5 linked regions of the Homo sapiens genome follow. The protein of the gene in region 2 interacts with the protein of the main gene of each other region in a pairwise test. Each region holds a gene or a part of one and is shown on either strand. Other genes may lie near its edges. The genes, in order: POLH, ENTREP1, USF2, CCDC127 and WWC2.

Evidence for each region.
Region 1: the proteins of ENTREP1 (region 2) and POLH interact in a two-hybrid assay, tested with the Homo sapiens proteins (one large-scale study listed by IntAct).
Region 3: the proteins of ENTREP1 (region 2) and USF2 interact in a two-hybrid assay, tested with the Homo sapiens proteins (one large-scale study listed by IntAct).
Region 4: the proteins of ENTREP1 (region 2) and CCDC127 interact in a two-hybrid assay, tested with the Homo sapiens proteins (one large-scale study listed by IntAct).
Region 5: the proteins of ENTREP1 (region 2) and WWC2 interact in a two-hybrid assay, tested with the Homo sapiens proteins (one large-scale study listed by IntAct).

What each region holds. Positions count from the first base shown.
Region 1 is NC_000006.12:43,614,170-43,617,609, reverse strand, and holds part of POLH (DNA polymerase eta), read right to left. Parts: coding exon 3,053-3,440; 3' UTR 1-3,052. UniProt on the Homo sapiens protein: DNA polymerase specifically involved in the DNA repair by translesion synthesis (TLS). Due to low processivity on both damaged and normal DNA, cooperates with the heterotetrameric (REV3L, REV7, POLD2 and POLD3) POLZ complex for complete bypass of DNA lesions.
Region 2 is NC_000009.12:69,377,210-69,380,730, reverse strand, and holds part of ENTREP1 (endosomal transmembrane epsin interactor 1), read right to left. Parts: intron 3,362-3,521; coding exon 3,254-3,361; intron 3,121-3,253; coding exon 2,987-3,120; intron 1-2,986. UniProt on the Homo sapiens protein: Functions as an activator of the E3 ubiquitin protein ligase ITCH in the ubiquitination of the CXCL12-activated CXCR4 receptor. Thereby, triggers CXCR4 endocytosis and desensitization, negatively regulating the CXCL12/CXCR4 signaling pathway.
Region 3 is NC_000019.10:35,271,960-35,275,480, reverse strand, and holds part of USF2 (upstream stimulatory factor 2), read right to left. Parts: intron 1-3,521.
Region 4 is NC_000005.10:198,740-201,153, forward strand, and holds part of CCDC127 (coiled-coil domain-containing protein 127), read right to left. Parts: 3' UTR 1-2,414.
Region 5 is NC_000004.12:183,105,741-183,109,261, reverse strand, and holds part of WWC2 (protein WWC2), read right to left. Parts: intron 1-3,521. UniProt on the Homo sapiens protein: Regulator of the Hippo signaling pathway, also known as the Salvador-Warts-Hippo (SWH) pathway.

The sequences.
Region 1 (3,440 bases), on a different chromosome or scaffold from region 2:
TGTTGCCCAGACTGGAGTGCAGTGGCACAATCTCAGCTCACTACAACCTCTGCCTCCCAGATTCAAGTGATTCTCCTGCCTCAGCCTCCTAAGTAGCTGGGATTACACGCATGCGTCACCACACACACCTAATTTTTGTTATTTTTTGTAGAGATGGGTTTTCCCCATGTTGGCCAGCCTGGTCTCAAACTCCCAGCCTCAAGTGATCCGCCCACCTTGGCCTCCCAAAGTGTGGGATTACAGGCATGAGCCACCACACCTGACCCACATTGGGAAATCTTGTTAATATCAGATTACAATTAAGTGGGAATAGTGGTGAGGCTGAGACTATTTCTAATAAGTTCCCTGGTGATACTGAGGCTGCTGTTCCTCAAATCATACTTGGGAGTAGCAATGTTCTAGAGATGATCTAGTGGGTTTTTTTGAGACAGAGTTACTCTATCGCCCAGGCTGGAATGCAGTGGAAATCTCGGCTCACTGCAACCTCTGCCTCCCAGGTTCAAGTGATTCTCCTGCCTCAGCCTCCCAACTAGCTGGGATTACACGCACCCACCACCATGCCCGGCTAATTTTTGTATTTTTAGTAGATACAGGGTTTCGCCATGTTGGCCATGCTTGTCTTGAACTCCTGACTTCACGTGGTCCACCTGCCTTGGCCTCCCAAAGTGCTGGGATAACAGGCATAAACCACCACGCCTGGCAAGATTTGATTATGACTTATCAGATCTAAACAGAGTTCCTGAACTAGTCAAGTAGCAATCTAATTCTACATTAGAACAAAACGCAAGAGATAGGCCAATGGTTAGAACTGAGGGTATAATAGGGTTTACCTGTATGAAATTCACTGTTTATTAAGTCACTTTTATGTACAGAAAGACCTGCCCTAGTTACCATATCACTTTTAGGGTTTCAAGGCTTCATCTCACATTCTTCAGCTGAAAACAGGTAAATCTGGTGAAGGTATTATCTGAACTGCCCGTCACAGAGCTAGAGAGAAGTTTTTCTTTTGTTTTTTTTTTTTTTGAGACAGTCTCTCACTCTCACCCTGGCTGGAGTGCATTGGTGTGATCTCAACTCACTGCAACCTCCACCTTCCAGGTTCAAGCAATTCTCCTGCCTCAGTCTCCCGAGTACCTGGGATTACAGGCGCCTGCCACCAAGCCCAGCTAATTTTTTTTAGTAGAGACGGGGTTTTGCCACCTTGCCCAGGCTGGTCTCGAACTCCTGAGCTCCTGCAATCCACTCACCTCAGCCTCCCTAAATGCTGGGATTATAGGCATGAGGAACCGCACCCAGCCTAAAGAGAAGTTTTTCTTTTTTTTTTTTTTTTGAGACGGAGTCTCGCTCTGTCACCCAGGCTGGAGTGCAGTGGCGCGCTCTCGGCTCACTGCAAGCTCCGCCTCCCGGGTTCACACCATTCTCCTGCCTCAGCCTCCCGAGTAGCTGGGACTACAGGCGCCTGCCACCGCACCCGGCTAATTTTTTTTTGTATTTTTTAGTAGAGACGGGGTTTCACCGTGGTCTCGATCTCCTGACCTTGTGATCCGCCCGCCTCGGCCTCCCAAAGTGCTGGGATTGCAGGCGTGAGCCACTGCGCCCGGCCAAGAGAAGTTTTTCTTAAAATCCTTTTTTTGGGGGGGCCAGGATCGGTGGCTAACATCTGTAATCCCAGCAACTTTGGGAGGTCGAGGCAGGCGGATCATGAGGTCAAGCAATCGAGACCATCCTGGCCAACATGGTGAAACCTCATCTCTATTAAAAATACAAAAATTAGCTGAGTGTGGTAGCACGTGCCTGTAGTCCCAGCTACTTGGGAGGCTGAGGCAGGAGAATTGCTTGAACCCAGGAGACGGAGGTTGCGGTGAGCTGAGAACGCACCACTGCATTCTAGCCTGACGACAGAGGGAGACTCCGTCTCAAAAATAAAAAATAAAAATAAAAATAATCCCTTTTTTTTTTTTAACTATGCAAGTCTCATTACATTTAAAACCCTTTTTTAAACTTGGTCCCTTTTCTGTGCCAACTTTATGTTTGTTTTTGTTCTTGTTTTTGTTTGAGATGGAGTCTCGCTCTGTTGCCCAGGCTGGAGTGCGGTGGCGCGATCTCAGCTCACTCCAACCTCTGCCTCCTGGGTTCAAGTGATTCTCCTGCCTTAGCCTCCTGAGTAGCTGGGATTACAGGCGTGCACCACCACGCCTGGATAATTTTTTTTGTAATTTTAGTAGAGATGGGGTTTCACCATATTGGTCTGAAACTCCTGACCTCGTGATCTGCCCGCCTTGGCCTCCCAAAGTGCTGGCATTACAGGTATGAGCCACTGTGCCTGGCCCCTATTTTTTATTTTCTGAGATGAAGTCTCGCTCTGTTGCCCAGGCTGGAGCGCACTAGCATGATCTCAGCTCAATGCAACCTCCGCCTCCAAGGTTAAAGCAATTCTTCTGCCTCAGCCTCTAAGTAGCTGGGATCACAGGTGCCTGGAACGTGCCTGGCTAATTTTTCTATTTTTAGTAGAGATGGTTTTGCCATGTTGGCCAGGCTGGTCTCAAACTCCTGACCTCAGGTGATCTGTCTGCCTCGGCCTCCCAAAGTGTTAGGATTACAGGCGTGAGCCATTGTACCCGGCCGAGTTACATAATTTGAATACATTGTTATTAATCTGCAATAATCTGTAAGGTATTATCTCCATTTTACAGATGAGAATGTGAAGAAAATGACTTGTTCAAGGCCCTCATTGCAATAACCAGAGCTAAGTTTGCAACCACGTCTCTTAGACTCCAAGGCCCACACACTTTTTACTTTATGACACTGCCTCCCTAAATGCTAAAGATTAAAAACTCTGGTAGGATGAATTTTTACATCTCTGTCAGCAGTGGGATTAGAATCCATGCCTGTGAAGAGATGGGACCGTAACTCAGCACCTAAATGGATTATTTTTTGTATTAAAAATTTCATAATTCCCTTTCTCAGGGAAATCTGTAAAGATAAAATATTAAAGATAAAGATCTGTAAAGATAAAAAATATTAAATCCTACAGGCAAGCCTGAGGGCAGCACTAATGTGTTAATGGCTTAAAAAATGATTCCAATGTTTGCATGCCCTCAGGCCTGGGGCGTTTATTAGTGCAGGCCAAAGGGCTCTTGGGATTTCTTTTGCCTTGATGAGATACGGCAGAAACAACCTGGGGGTTTGAAGAGTGGGGCTGCAAAAAGGATTTCTGCAACTCCAATGCAAAATGATAGTCCATGTGTTCTGGCATATCCCATACCGGTACCAGGGAGCCACACTTCTCACAGGGCACTTGGTCCTCAGCAGCTAGAAGACTTGGATTTGGGGTTGCTTTCTGAGTCACCTCCAGCACAGATTTGGAAGCTGAAGAGGCGTGCATGCTTTGGCTGTTGTGGGCCAAATCCATCTCTGCAGGAGTTGCTTTAGAGGATTCT
Region 2 (3,521 bases):
TTGGAGACTCCTTGATCCCTGGCTCAAGCCAACTTCTGAGAACAGAGACACCCTGGAGTAGCGGAGGTGGGGTGGGGTGCACGGCCCCCTCCTGTATTACAAATCAATTCACAAAGTAGCGAACCCATCTTTGGACAGAAACCTCAACTGCAATCAGACTTCTGTTTATGACAGTAACTCGAGAAGCCTTTTCTCAAGGAGATGCCAACGCATGAAGTGGTTGTATTTATAGAAGTTAAACAAACCTCTTCTGAGAGGTCATAATACCTTACAGGAAATGGGGAGCCTCTGTTGTGTGAAAACTCTGGATAAAACTGGTCATAAAATAGTAACAATCATGAATATTCTTGCCTGCCTGCTTAAAAGAAAGAAAATTACCAACTGAGGTTAAACCATGAGTGTCTATAAAGTTGATTTATACCGTGAATCTAGAAAAGTTGGTCACATTGTGAAATATTTTTGATAGGACATGTATCTAAATGTGAATAAATTCAGCCCTTTTGAAAAGGAAAGTGGACTGCACTCTGATATTGGTAAAATTTCCAAAAATAAAGGTGTTTGCCCATTGGCAATATGATTATAGGGCTCTAGGCACGTATTTTAGACTGGGCAATGTCTTCTTTCTCACAAGACTGTTTTGCTTTAACTCCCTCCTTCGGCCTTCTTTCTAGAAAGTTTTGAAGGATAAAGCCCTTGATGAGAAGCTTGTCTGTTTTCTTCCAACCTGGATTTGGCCAGAGGCTGTCTCAGGACTCAGAGAGACAAATCCGAGGATGCACCTAGATCTTAAAGAGTGGAAATATCTGCAGTGATGAGCATTATTATGGTGAAGCAGAGAAGAGAAAGGAAAGCGAGGAGACAGGAAGGTCGGGAGTGCTCAGAGCACACTGCTGGATGGCTCGGCTCCTAAACCCACATGAGTCACTTTCCCTTTCTGCCACTGCAGAAACTAAATCTGTCTGCTGCCTCCTCCTAGGTCAACAGAGTGCTCATCCGCAACCTCAGTGTCAAAGAATTCTTCTTATTGGAGAGGGTATTTCTCATCCCCACCATGAAATATCAGTCATTTTTTACTGTCCTCCAATGTACCCTCTACAGACAGCCTGAGACGGCGCTAAGATTTTTGCAAATGTGTCCTCAGGTACAGAAAGAACATGTGTTTTGCTGCCATATCTCTTCAGCCTCTGTCATTCTTGGCTCATTTCCTGAAAGATTAAGGAAGCCATCCCAGCCCCTGAGGCTTTGAAATTCCAGTAGAGGCCACTCCCTGAACACCAGAGAGGCCAAGCTGTCCCACAGGCCTAGCCCAGGCCACCTGTCACCCAGCTGACATCCCCTCCAGCTTTGCAGTCATCTCTGCCCCTGCCTGGGCAAGTGAGCTGGGGAGGGTATAGACGTAGGGTTCAGGTATAACTGAGGGACGAGTCAGCAGCTAAGCCACTGAAAAGAACACTAACAGTGTCTGGGTGGCAGCCCCACTGGTGACCTATCTCAAAGTCACATACCATCACCCTGGACATTAGAAAATACTTCTCTAAAAACCTCAAGCTCAGCACCAAGTTAGTTTGATAAGTCTCTACATGTACTACAGGGATTAAAAAATAGAAATTTCTGGCCCTCTGAATATGAAGCTAAAGACACTAGTATTTCTGTGGAATTAAGAGATTCTCTTTCAAAAAGTTCAACAGATGTTTGCTTATCCTTTAAACTCAGCTTAAGTTCACTTCATCCAGGAAGCCATCTCTGACTGCCTTGCCACTCTGGGTTAGGTGTACCTTCTCTGTGCACCCAAAGTCCCTCTTTTGAATATTACCGTGATCCTTCCAACACACATTTTAATGACCTAGACTGTGAGCTCCTTAATGGTAGAGGAGGAAGCAGGTCTAGCTCATTTTGAATTCCAATAACCCAGCACAGAGGATTCCACGTTTGTTGAATGAATAAACGAATGAAGTCATTCTTTTTTTTTTTTTTGAGACAAAGTCTCGCTCTCACCCAGGCTGGAGTGCAGTGGTGCGATCTCAGCTCACTGCAAGCTCCACCTCCCAGGTTCATGCCATTCTCCTGCCTCAGCCTCCCAAGTAGCTGGGACTACAGGTGCCCACTACCATGCCCGGCTAATTTTTTTGTATTTTTAGTAGAGACGGGGGTTAGCCAGGATGGTCTTGATCTCCTGACCTCATGATCTGCCCGCCTCAGCCTCCCAAAGTGCTGGGATTACAGGTGTGAGCCACCACGCCGCGCCTAAATGAAGTCATTCTTTAAAAAAAGGTTTGATTCTAGAAGTTGCTAACAATCAGACAGATGTATGCGGCATTTCACTGTACCAATAAAAATCCTTGATATTTAAGAAGGTCAAAATTTTAAGTTTGAAATTTGAAAAGGAAAATAAGTATGGTATCTATTTTTTCTAGACCAGGGAGAGACAATTAATAATTAATCTCTTTTTAATGGCTAGGAAGAATTTCTTGATTGTTGAGACCTGCTGATGGTATTACAATGAAACATCGATTTGGCCTAACTGGGAGTGTTTCCAAGGCAACAGCGACTCTCAATCATGTCAAATTACAGCTGTTATCTCCCTGGGTGTCAGTTTCCCTTAGAAAGCTAATTGAAATTGAAAATGTCTATCTTCAGGCCAAAGTTTAACTTTTCTTTGGATTCATCTGTTTTATCAGACAAAAAGAGAAAGTAAGACAGAAAACAGAGAGAGAGAGACAGAGAGAATAGAAACCCCTGAAAAACAGCATAATTGTTTTTCATTTTTCTAAAGAAGGCTGGCAGAGGTGGACTCTCTAAAAGCCATACCACAGGGTTCACTAGCTGATTTTGTCACTCATTGGGCTAACGTTCCTCAAGTCAGGAAAAATTTTTCTTTTTCTTTTTCAAAGAAAAGTGAGATCTCATGTGGTGAGTTCTGGAGACACTTCAGTCTTCAGAACCCACAGCATCCCACTCAGACTGCAGGGGAACTCAGGAACGATACCTGCGGTTCATCCGGGGTGTGCACGAGTAAAACGTGGCAAAATAGGAAGGGGGAGGCACAGGCGGCACAAAATCATCAGGGTCGGGGATGCGTCCATGATCCTCCGCTTCTTCAGCAGAAATCTGGGATTCATCCTGATTAAACAGCAGCTCAGTTAGTCAACAGCCTTCATTACAAAGGCACGGGGAGAGAGGCAGTGGATGACACGAAGGGGTCCATGGGCTGGCTCAGCGGAAACGTGGCCATGATGCCCTTGCATAGACTTACGATGCAGGATCTCCTGGTTGCGAATATCTGGAGGTAGCGGAGGGCAGCGGCCACCAAGCAGACGGTGGTGGTCAGGGCATTCAAGGCACACAGGGCAAAGAGGACTTTCTGGGGCAAGGAAACAATGGCACCACTAAGTACTTCAACAAACATCACCAGAATACAATGTAGAAAATCTTTAAAATAATAATAACGCTGCCTCCATAAGACAATTCTCAGGAGAGGATGCATGTAAAGGACTTAGATGGTGTTTGGCTCGTGGAAAGTG
Region 3 (3,521 bases), on a different chromosome or scaffold from region 2:
CTGTAAAATAAAGATTTTAGTAGAAAATTGGAAAAAAAAAAAAAAAAAGAATTACCTTAAAAAGCTGGGGTTGGGGTGTGCCAGGGAAGCTAAAGCATGAAACCTAGCAAATTGAATCCAAAGTGAGTAGAAGGGGCCGGGTGCAGTGGCTCACTCCTGTAATCCCAGCACTTTGGGAGGCTGAGGCAGGTGGATAACCTGAGGCCAGGAGTTCGAGACCAGCCTGGCCAACATGGTGAAACCCCGTCTCTACCAAAAATACAAAAACTAGCTAGGTGTGGCAGCGGGCACCTGTAGTCCCAGCTACTTGGGAGACTGAGGCAGGAGAATCACTTGAACCGGGGAGGCAGAGGTTGTAGTAAGCTGAGATTGCGCCACTGTGACAGAGCGAGATTCCATCTCAAAACAAAACAACAAACAAACAAAAAACCAAGTGAGTAGAAGCATGAATTAGTAACATTAAGAGTAGAAATCAATGAAACGGAAAAAGCAATCTAATCTGGCACCTAAAAATCAGATTTCACATAAGTCTCGATTTCTAGCTTCTCAGAGTTTCTGGCAACAGTGGCCCTAGATTCTGACAGGGCAGCAAGGGGAAGGCACTGGGCAAGGGCCACCCTTCAGGCAGCGCACACATGCCCCAGATCACTGGGGGCCCCCCACAACCTTTCCTATCTTTTTCTGACACAAGGTCTGGGTCTGTTGCTCAGGCTGGAGGGTAATCTCAGCTCACTGCAACCTCTGTCTCCCGGACTCAAGCCATCTTCCCACCACAGGTTCCCAAGTAGCTGGGACTGTTACAGGCATGTACCACCAGGCCTGGCTAATTTTTAATTTTTTTGGTAGAGACAGGGTTTTGTCACATTGCCTAGGATGGTCTCAAACTCCTGGGCTCAAGTGATCCGTCCGTCTTGGCCAAAATGTAATCCCAAAAGTGCTGGGATTCCGGGCGGGAGCCACCACACCCAGCCACACACCCCTTCCTGAGATGCCAAGTGCACCTCCCTCCCTCAGGCCCCTGCAGGCATTTGAGTCTGTGACTCTGGGATAAGCTCCTGCAGTACCAAGAAGTGGTGGGAAGGAGGGAAAAAGAAGTGAGAGAAGCGGATCTGAAATCACCACAGAAGAGAAACTTGGGGTTTGTGGCCATAAGGGAAGAAGAGGGCAGAGTTGAAAGCGGCTCTGGTCTTAGTTTCTGGCTTGGGCAGCTGTGACAGGGGTAGCTTTTGCTGCTCTGCAAAGAAGAAGGTTGCATGAAAGCCTTTGGAGACGGGAGATGGCACATTCTCTTTTGGGCGAGTTGAGTTTGAGGCATTACAGGGATGTCCAGAGACAGAAATCTCGAATAGGTAGTTCAAAACGTGGGGCTGGAGTTGCAGTGAAAGGAAGGGAATGGATGGAAACACAGTTCCTTGCATTACCAGGAGCCAGGTGGTGGGCGAAGCCTGGGAGGACATCAAGGAACAGTCCTCAACTTTTTGTGAGTCACACACTCTTCTGCAGCAAAGAAAAAAGAGGAACACCTACAAGGGGGAACAGAGTTTGGGGGATACTGACCAAGAGCTTCCGAGCCCATCGCTGGGCCTCACAAGTCATACACCTGAGGCCGACGGGAGGGGCCGGACCTTATGAAACACCAGCAAGACTGGGTGTGGCAGCTCAGGCCTGTAGCCGAGGCCGGAGGACTGCCTGAGGCCAGAAGTTCAAGACGAGCCTGGGCAGCATAGCAAGACCTCCACTCTACAGATAAAAAAAAATTACCCCATGTGATGACGCCTGCCTGTGGTCCCAGCCACTCAGAAGCCTGAGGTGTGAGGATCGCTTGAGCCTGGGAGGTCAAGGCTGCAGTGAGCTGTGATTGTGCCACTGTACTCCAGCCTGGGTGACAGAGTGAGACCCCCTTCTCAAAAAAAAAGAAACACTCGCAGCCAAAGCAGTTTCTCAAGCTTGTCCACTATGACAAATCACCTGAAGAGCTGATGGAAAACACAGATTCCCCGGCACCCCCATCTACTCACTTGGAACTGGGACAGCCCTGGAAATTTCACTGTTAACAGTGGGGTAGGAAAGGCAAAGATCACAGGAGAATCAGAGAGGATGGAGGAGAAAGGAAGATTCCAGAAAGGAACAGAGGGAAACAGGCAGCATCAGATGCTTGGAGCCCAGACAGCAAAGGAGGCCAGTGGATGTGGCAATGGGGTCACCACGGGTGACCGGAAGTGGAGCTGTTTTGGTAGAGCCATGAGCCAGATGGCTGAGGGTACTGGGAGGATGAGCAGATTGGGGCAGATGCTCTGCAAGTCAGGAAAGCGGAGACAGGACGGAGCTGGAGAAGTGGGCAGGTGATGAAGACTGCTTCACAGGGTGAGAAAGTTTCAAGGCTGCCTGGAGTCAGATTAACTAAGGGAGAGGCGGGGGTGAGAGTGGGGTGGGAGGGTTCTGAGTCCTCTCTTCGCCTTACTGTGTGGCCACCAAGACTCACTGCATCCCCACCAGGTGCCCGGGGCGGCTGTGCTTCCACCATTTCACAGAGGGAAGACAGGTACGGAGATTAAGAACCACCCTGACGCCCCACCACAGGTAAGTCGTGGGGCTGGGGCTGCTCTGGGGGCCCCTCAAACTCACTGCATCTCAAAACCAAGCTCAGATGCACCCCTTCCCTTCCAAGCATGGAGGGGAGTTCAGCACGAAACCCTTATTCTCCAGCCTTGGAGTCCTCCCCACATTTCCCCCAACCCCTGCCCTGTCTCAGGCCTGACAGTCGTATGGTCTCCTACCTCCCAGCCCCTTCCCACCACTCTTGCCAACAGCCTCCACAACCCAAACCCCTCTGCTGGCTTCTCATCACCCTGGAATAAAACCACAGGAGCCCAGACAGCCACACTGGGGACTTCTTCCAAGGTCCTCCACCATCTGGCCTGGGCAGCCCCCTCCACTGCGCCAACTTCCTCTTTCCTTTCCTGAATTCTGCTCTTCTGCAGACACACCATGGCGGCCCTGGCTCAGGGCCTGGCCTGTGTTCTAGCTCTTCCCTCTGCCCGGGACTCTCCTGAGGTTCTCAACAGGCCCCTTCCCTCAGGTCGCTTCAGGGATCTGCTTCAATGTCACCTCTCGAAGAGCCCTTCAGAGCACACTACCATGCCGCCATCACCCGCCACCTTCTTCCCCAGCTTTCCTCTCCTGCCTGTGACTGCCTGCACTGCCTGATGCGGCTGTGTGACTCCCATCTCTCCCACCAGAACGCGCACAGAGAGCTGAGACCTTGTCTGTCCTATCATCTGCTGCATTGCCATATCTGAGGACGCAAAAGGGGGGCTGGTCGTAGTATGCACGCGCTGAATGAACGCCTGAACTCAGGGAGGAGCTGCTCAGAACACAACTACCTGGGCCACAGACCCCAGTCCCATCACCACCTTTAGGACTCAGCATTCAGCCCCTCACTCGGGCATTCGAGGCCTTCCCGATCTTCCCTCCTGAGGCATTCTAAATGGAACTTCTCCCACAACCAAACCAGCACCCCA
Region 4 (2,414 bases), on a different chromosome or scaffold from region 2:
CGCCCAATCTTGTGACTCCAGTCCTGGGTCGCATGGCGTCTGTGGCCACACATCCGGCGTCTGCAGGGCCCAGGAGCACGCCTGCTGGGTTTTTATGGAGAGCACTTCTCTACCGCAGAAAACACGGCCTCCCACACAAGACAAGCTAGTGGGAATCAGGCAAAACCATTCAGCAGGTGAGAGTGCTGATCCAACCCAGCAAACATCCATGGTGGCTGTAGCTGGGGCTGCTCCTGGCGGAGCCTCAGGGTTCACCTGCCCAGGCCCACCCCGGCTTTCCAGGGCCAGTGGGTGATGTGAGCAGGGTCCCAATGGGGGCCGCCATCTGGAGCCACCGTCTTTGCCTCCCTTGGGTCTTCCACAGCAGCATGGGCTGGTGCAGCTCCTTCAGAACATGGCACTGCTTCCTGTCCACCATCCTGGCAAGGAGTGGGGGCCGTTTTAGGGGCTCCAACTCAAGTCCTTCCTGGCTTAATGACTTGTTCCACAGGTCAGGAAATGATGATACCCTCGCAGGCCAAGGAGATATACGCAGGCCCAGTGGCCCCTGTGTGGTGGACGTGGCCCCTCTGTGTGGTGGACGTGGCCCCTCTGTGTGGACGTGGCCCCTCTGTGTGGTGGACGTGGCCAAGGGCCCTGGAACATCAGGGTTGCTCTCATCCACCAGCGCTCTCCTGCTCTTCCTCTTCTGAGTTGAGCAAGGCTCCATCATCTGCTGCATGCTGGAGTCCCACTATCCATCAGCCCCACACGGCCCCATGGGTGGGGGCACCGTGCTTGTCCCCCCCCATCTTGATGCCTGCCAGTCACCCCCCGCCCCACCTCTGCCAGCCCAGAGCCCCTCAGCCCAGATCCCATTTTCTGGCACCACCAGCCCTGGCCCATGGGGAGCAGCCACCTCGGAGCTATGGCACAGTGCTGTCAAGAGCAGGGCCCCAGCACCCCTACCTCCCGAGGAGGCCCCAGCACCCCACTCCCTGCCTGTCAGCCACCAACCAGCTTCGAGAAGCTCTCCCAGCAGGGATGGGCTCGGTCTCAGTGTCCCTGCTGGAATATTAAACAGAGCCACTTGAGTGCCCCAATGTGGCACTTTCTGCCCATCTGCCTTTCTTCGTTACTCCTCCCTCCTCACCCCACTCTCGGCACCCAGGCCAGGCCCTGCACCTGCTCCTGGAGCAGGACTTGACTCCTCTACCTGGACCAGGCAGGTCATGAAAGATGGGGCACTGCCTGAGGTCTCTGCCAGATTCCCAGGTGAGGGAGATCTGCTTTCCCCATGGGGTTGGGGCGGCCATGCTGGCACAAAGGGCTCCCGTGAATCTGGAGCTCACCCAGCAAACATCCAGGCGGCGGCAGCAGCTCTCAAGGTACACTTGTCCTGTGAGCCGCAGAGCCACATTCAGGCTCATCTGGTCCCGCTACCCGACAGCAAGACCCTCAGCCTGTCAGGGGGTCTGCAGCAGATGAGAGACCTGCGAAGCTGCCACAGAAGCCCTCCGCCTTCCACCGCATGCCTGCTGTCCATGGGTGGCTTACTGAAGCCCTTCGTTTTCTCTTTTCAAGATTTCCCATGAAGCTAGCAAAGGCCACAGGCTCTGCAACCCTGATCTTCATTGTTCCCACTCCTTTAGAACACCGCGGTATGGTGGAGCCCAGCGCTTCCCTAACTCGGCCGCCCGCTGGAGCAGGCCAGGCAGGGGGCAGGCTCAGGAGCTGTGGGAACCGCCCTGTCCCACCGTGTGGCCAGAGAAGCTGGTTTGGGGATTGGCGCGGCTATGCAGAGATATGACACAGAGTGACAAGTACTCCGAGGCCCCTGAGAGTCCCTTATTTGTCTTTCTGGTTCTTCTCTGACATCTAACCTGTGTTCTCCATTCTTGACCTGAAGTTTCACGAGACAGCCTTAAATCCCTCTTTAACTTTCTAGGCTAGCACAAATCCATCTCTGCTGCTTGCAAACAGAATCCTAAATTAATAGAGAAATACAGCAACTGTTTCGTCAAACCCAGCATAGAAAGAGGAGCCTTTTCAGCCTCAACCTATAAAACCCAGCGCAGTTACTCACACAAGTCAAGGCAGACGGAGCAAGCCCAGCACTTTCTACACAGCAGGCTGCCCCCATCACAGCCAGCCAGCGTCTACACAGCAGGCTGCCCCCATCACAGCTAGCCAGCGTCTACACAGCAGGCTGCCCCCATCACAGCCAGCCAGCGTCTACACAGCAGGCTGCCCCCATCACAGCCAGCGTCTACACAGCAGGCTGCCCCCATCACAGCCAGCCAGTGTCTACACAGCAGGCTGCCCCCCATCACAGCCAGCCAGTGTCTACACAGCAGGCTGCCCCCCATCACAGCCAGCCAGTGTCTAGGGCAGCTGCCCCCCCAAACACCCTGGCTCCTCCCAACATCGCACGG
Region 5 (3,521 bases), on a different chromosome or scaffold from region 2:
TCCAGGCTTTGTGAACCACATTTAGTCTCTGTCACATATTCTTCTTTATTTTTGTTTGTTTGTTTACAGCTTTTCATGATTTAAAACCCATTCTTAGCTGGAGGGCTAAAATGAGGCCTACAAAGCAGAATTTTCATATAAACAACAAACATGGTTATGCTTCCACCAAAGAAAATCACTTCGTTTTGTGTGACTTTTAAGAGGTCTTTTAAAATTTTATTTTTTAGAACAGTCTTAGATTTATAGAAAAAAAACCACAAAATTAGTGTGGAAAGTTGCCATATATAGTCCACACTTACTTTTCCCTGTTGGTATGGTACATCTATTAACATTAATAAAATTAACTACAATCGGGCCGGGTGTGGTGTCTCACACCTGTAATCCCAGCACTTTGGGAGGCCGAGGCAGGCAGATCACTAGGTCAGGAGTTCAAGACTAGCCTGGCCAACATGGTGAAACCCTATCTCTACTAAAAATACAAAAATTAGCTGGGTGTGGTGGCACATGCCTGTAATCCCAGCTACTGGGGAGGCTGAGGCAGGAGAATTGCTTGAACCCGGGAGGCTGAGGCTGCAGTGAGCCGAGATCACAACACTGCACTCCAGCCTGGGTGAAAGAGTGAGGCTGTGTCTCAAAAAAAAAAAAAATTTTAACTACAATCCATACCTTATTCAGATTTCCTTAGTTTTCACCTAATGTCCTTTTTCCAGCCCAGGACTCCTCCACCCCTGGGACACATTACATTTAGTCTTGGTGTCTCCTTACGCTCCTCATGGCTGTGAGGGTTTCTCAGACTTTCCTTATTGGTGAGGATCTTGACGGTTTTGAGGGGTACTGGTCAGGTATTTTATAGGATACCCCTCTACTGGGATCCAGTAGGTGTTTTTCTCAAGATTAGACTGGAGTTACTACGGTTTTGGGGGAGAAAGACCACAAAGATAAAATGCCATTGTCACCACATCACATCAAGGGTGTATCAGCAGGACTTAGTGCCCTGGATGTTCCCTTTGATCACCTGATGGAGGCAGCGCTTGTCAGGTTTGCTCCTGCCATTTTTTAAAAAAACAATGAACAAAAATAAATTTAATTCTTCACATATATAACGAGCTAAAAGGAAAAGCCTTTACATGTCAAATCATTTTGAATAAGCTGATGTATATACATTGCACATATGATTCATTACGTGACTCACACAAATGCCTCATAAAATACATCACATTTGAAATAAAGAAAAAAATTAATATATACTTTGCCAATATATTCTGCTTTTAATTCCTTTCAACTGTCTTCCCTCTGAGTGTTTAGGAAGAAGGTACCCTTAAACTGAAATATAGGAATATAGAGAAAATTTAACAGATAATACTCAAAATTTTCTTTCACTTTTTAAATGATGATTATGCACACTAGATTGTAGGCAAGCTGAGCTGGGACCAAATCTTATCCATCTTTATCTCCCAGAGTCCAGGGTACCTGGCTGGTTGATACAATAAAAACTGTTAATTAATGCATATCTACAATGTCAGTATTAAATAATCACTCAAAGCAATCAGATAGGGAGAAAAGGGAAGAGCAATGTGAGACTAAAAAAACCCTCTAACTTCTCTTACCTAACTTTTTATTGATCAAGTAAGAGTGAGAGTACACAAACAAAAAGGGGGCAGAATAGCAACAGCTATAAAAGGCTAGAATAAGGGGAGGCTTGGGCCCAACTAAGGCCATCAAAACACTACGAAGAGGGAAATACAAATCAACACCACAGTAAGATCCTACCTCACACCCACTAAAATAACTTTTTAAAAAAAAGAAAGAAGTGAGGCCAGTTGTGGTGGCTCACATCTGTAATCCTAGCACTTTGGAAGGCCAAGGTAGGCAGATCACTTGAGGTCAAAAGTTCGAGACCGGCCCAACCCCGTCTCTACTAAAAATACAAAAATTGCCCAGGCATGGTGGCTTGTGCCTATAATCCCAGCTACTCAGGAGGCTGAGGTGGGAGGATCTGTTGAACCCTGGAGGTGGAGGTGGAAGCCGCAGTGAGCCGAGATCACCACTGCACTCCAGCCTGGGCAAGAGAGACCGGCTCCGTCTCAAAAGAAGAAAGAAAAGAAAAAAAGAAAAGAGAGAAGAGAAGAGAAGGAAAGAGAAGAGAGAGACAGAAAGAGGAGAGAAGGAGAGAAAGAGAGAGAAGTGTTGGTGAGGATGTGGAGGAATTTGCACACTCATACCCTGCTGGTGGGAATGTAAAATGGTGGTAAACAGTCTAGCAGTCCCCTCAAAAAGTTAAACATAGAACTGCCATATGACCCAGCAACTCCACTTTTAGACATGTATATACTGAAGAGAACTGAAGACACACATTCATACAAAAATTGTACAGGGATATTCATAGCAGCATCATTCATAACAGCCAAAGAGTGGAAATGACCCAAATGCACATCAGCTAATGAAAGTACAAAATATGGTATATCTACACAATCGAATATTATTAAGTCATGAAAATGATGCAGTAGTACAATAAATGCTACAAAATGAACCCTGAATGCATTACACTAAGAAAAAAAGAAGCCAGATACAAAGGGATACAAATTTTACTATTCCATTTATATAAAATGTCCAGAATAGGCAAATTCAGAGACACAAAGTAGATCAGTTTTTGCAAAAAGCTGTAGAGACGGGAGATGAATGAGAAGTGAGTTCTTAATAGGTAAGGGGTCGTTTGTTTTGGGGGTGATTAAAATGTTCAGGAATTATACAGTGTTTATGGTTTCATAACAATGAATATACTAAAAACTACTAAGGTGTAGTCTTCAAAATGGTTAAAATGAATAATTTTATGCTGAGGAATTTTTTTAATCTAATAAAGATAAAATAATTGGAAAAAATCACTGAAGACATTGAAAACATTGTGAACCTATATTTTGATAAATCATTTGTATCTCACAACTTACATACACACTGTGCCTTTAAAAATCCCTTTCCTCAGCCGGGCGTGGTGGCTCATGCCTGTAATCCCAGCATTTTGGGAGGCTGAGATGGGCAGATCACCTGAGGTCAGAAGTTCGAGACTAGCCTGGCCAACATGGTGAAACCCCATCTCTATTAAAAATACAAAAACTAGCTGGGCGTGGTGGCGAGAGCCTATAATCCCAGCTACTCGGGAGGCTGAGGCAGAATTGCTTGAACCTTGAACCCAGGAGGCGGAGGCTGTAGTGAGCCGAAATCACACCACTGCACCCCAGCCTGGGCAACAAGAATAAAACTCTTGTCAAAAAAAAAAAATCCCTTTCCTCTTCTACATTATTCTGTGGTAACTTTTTCAGTAACAGGAGTTTAGAAATGCATAAAGAAGTCCAAAATTCTTTTTTTTTTTTTTTTAAGACAGAGTCCCGTTCTGTCACCCAGGCTGGAGTGCATTGGCGCAATGTCTGCTCACTGCAAGCTCCGCTTCCCGGGTTCACGCCATTCTCCTGCCTCAGCCACCCAAGTAGCTGGGACTACAGGCACCCGCCACCACGCCTGGCAAA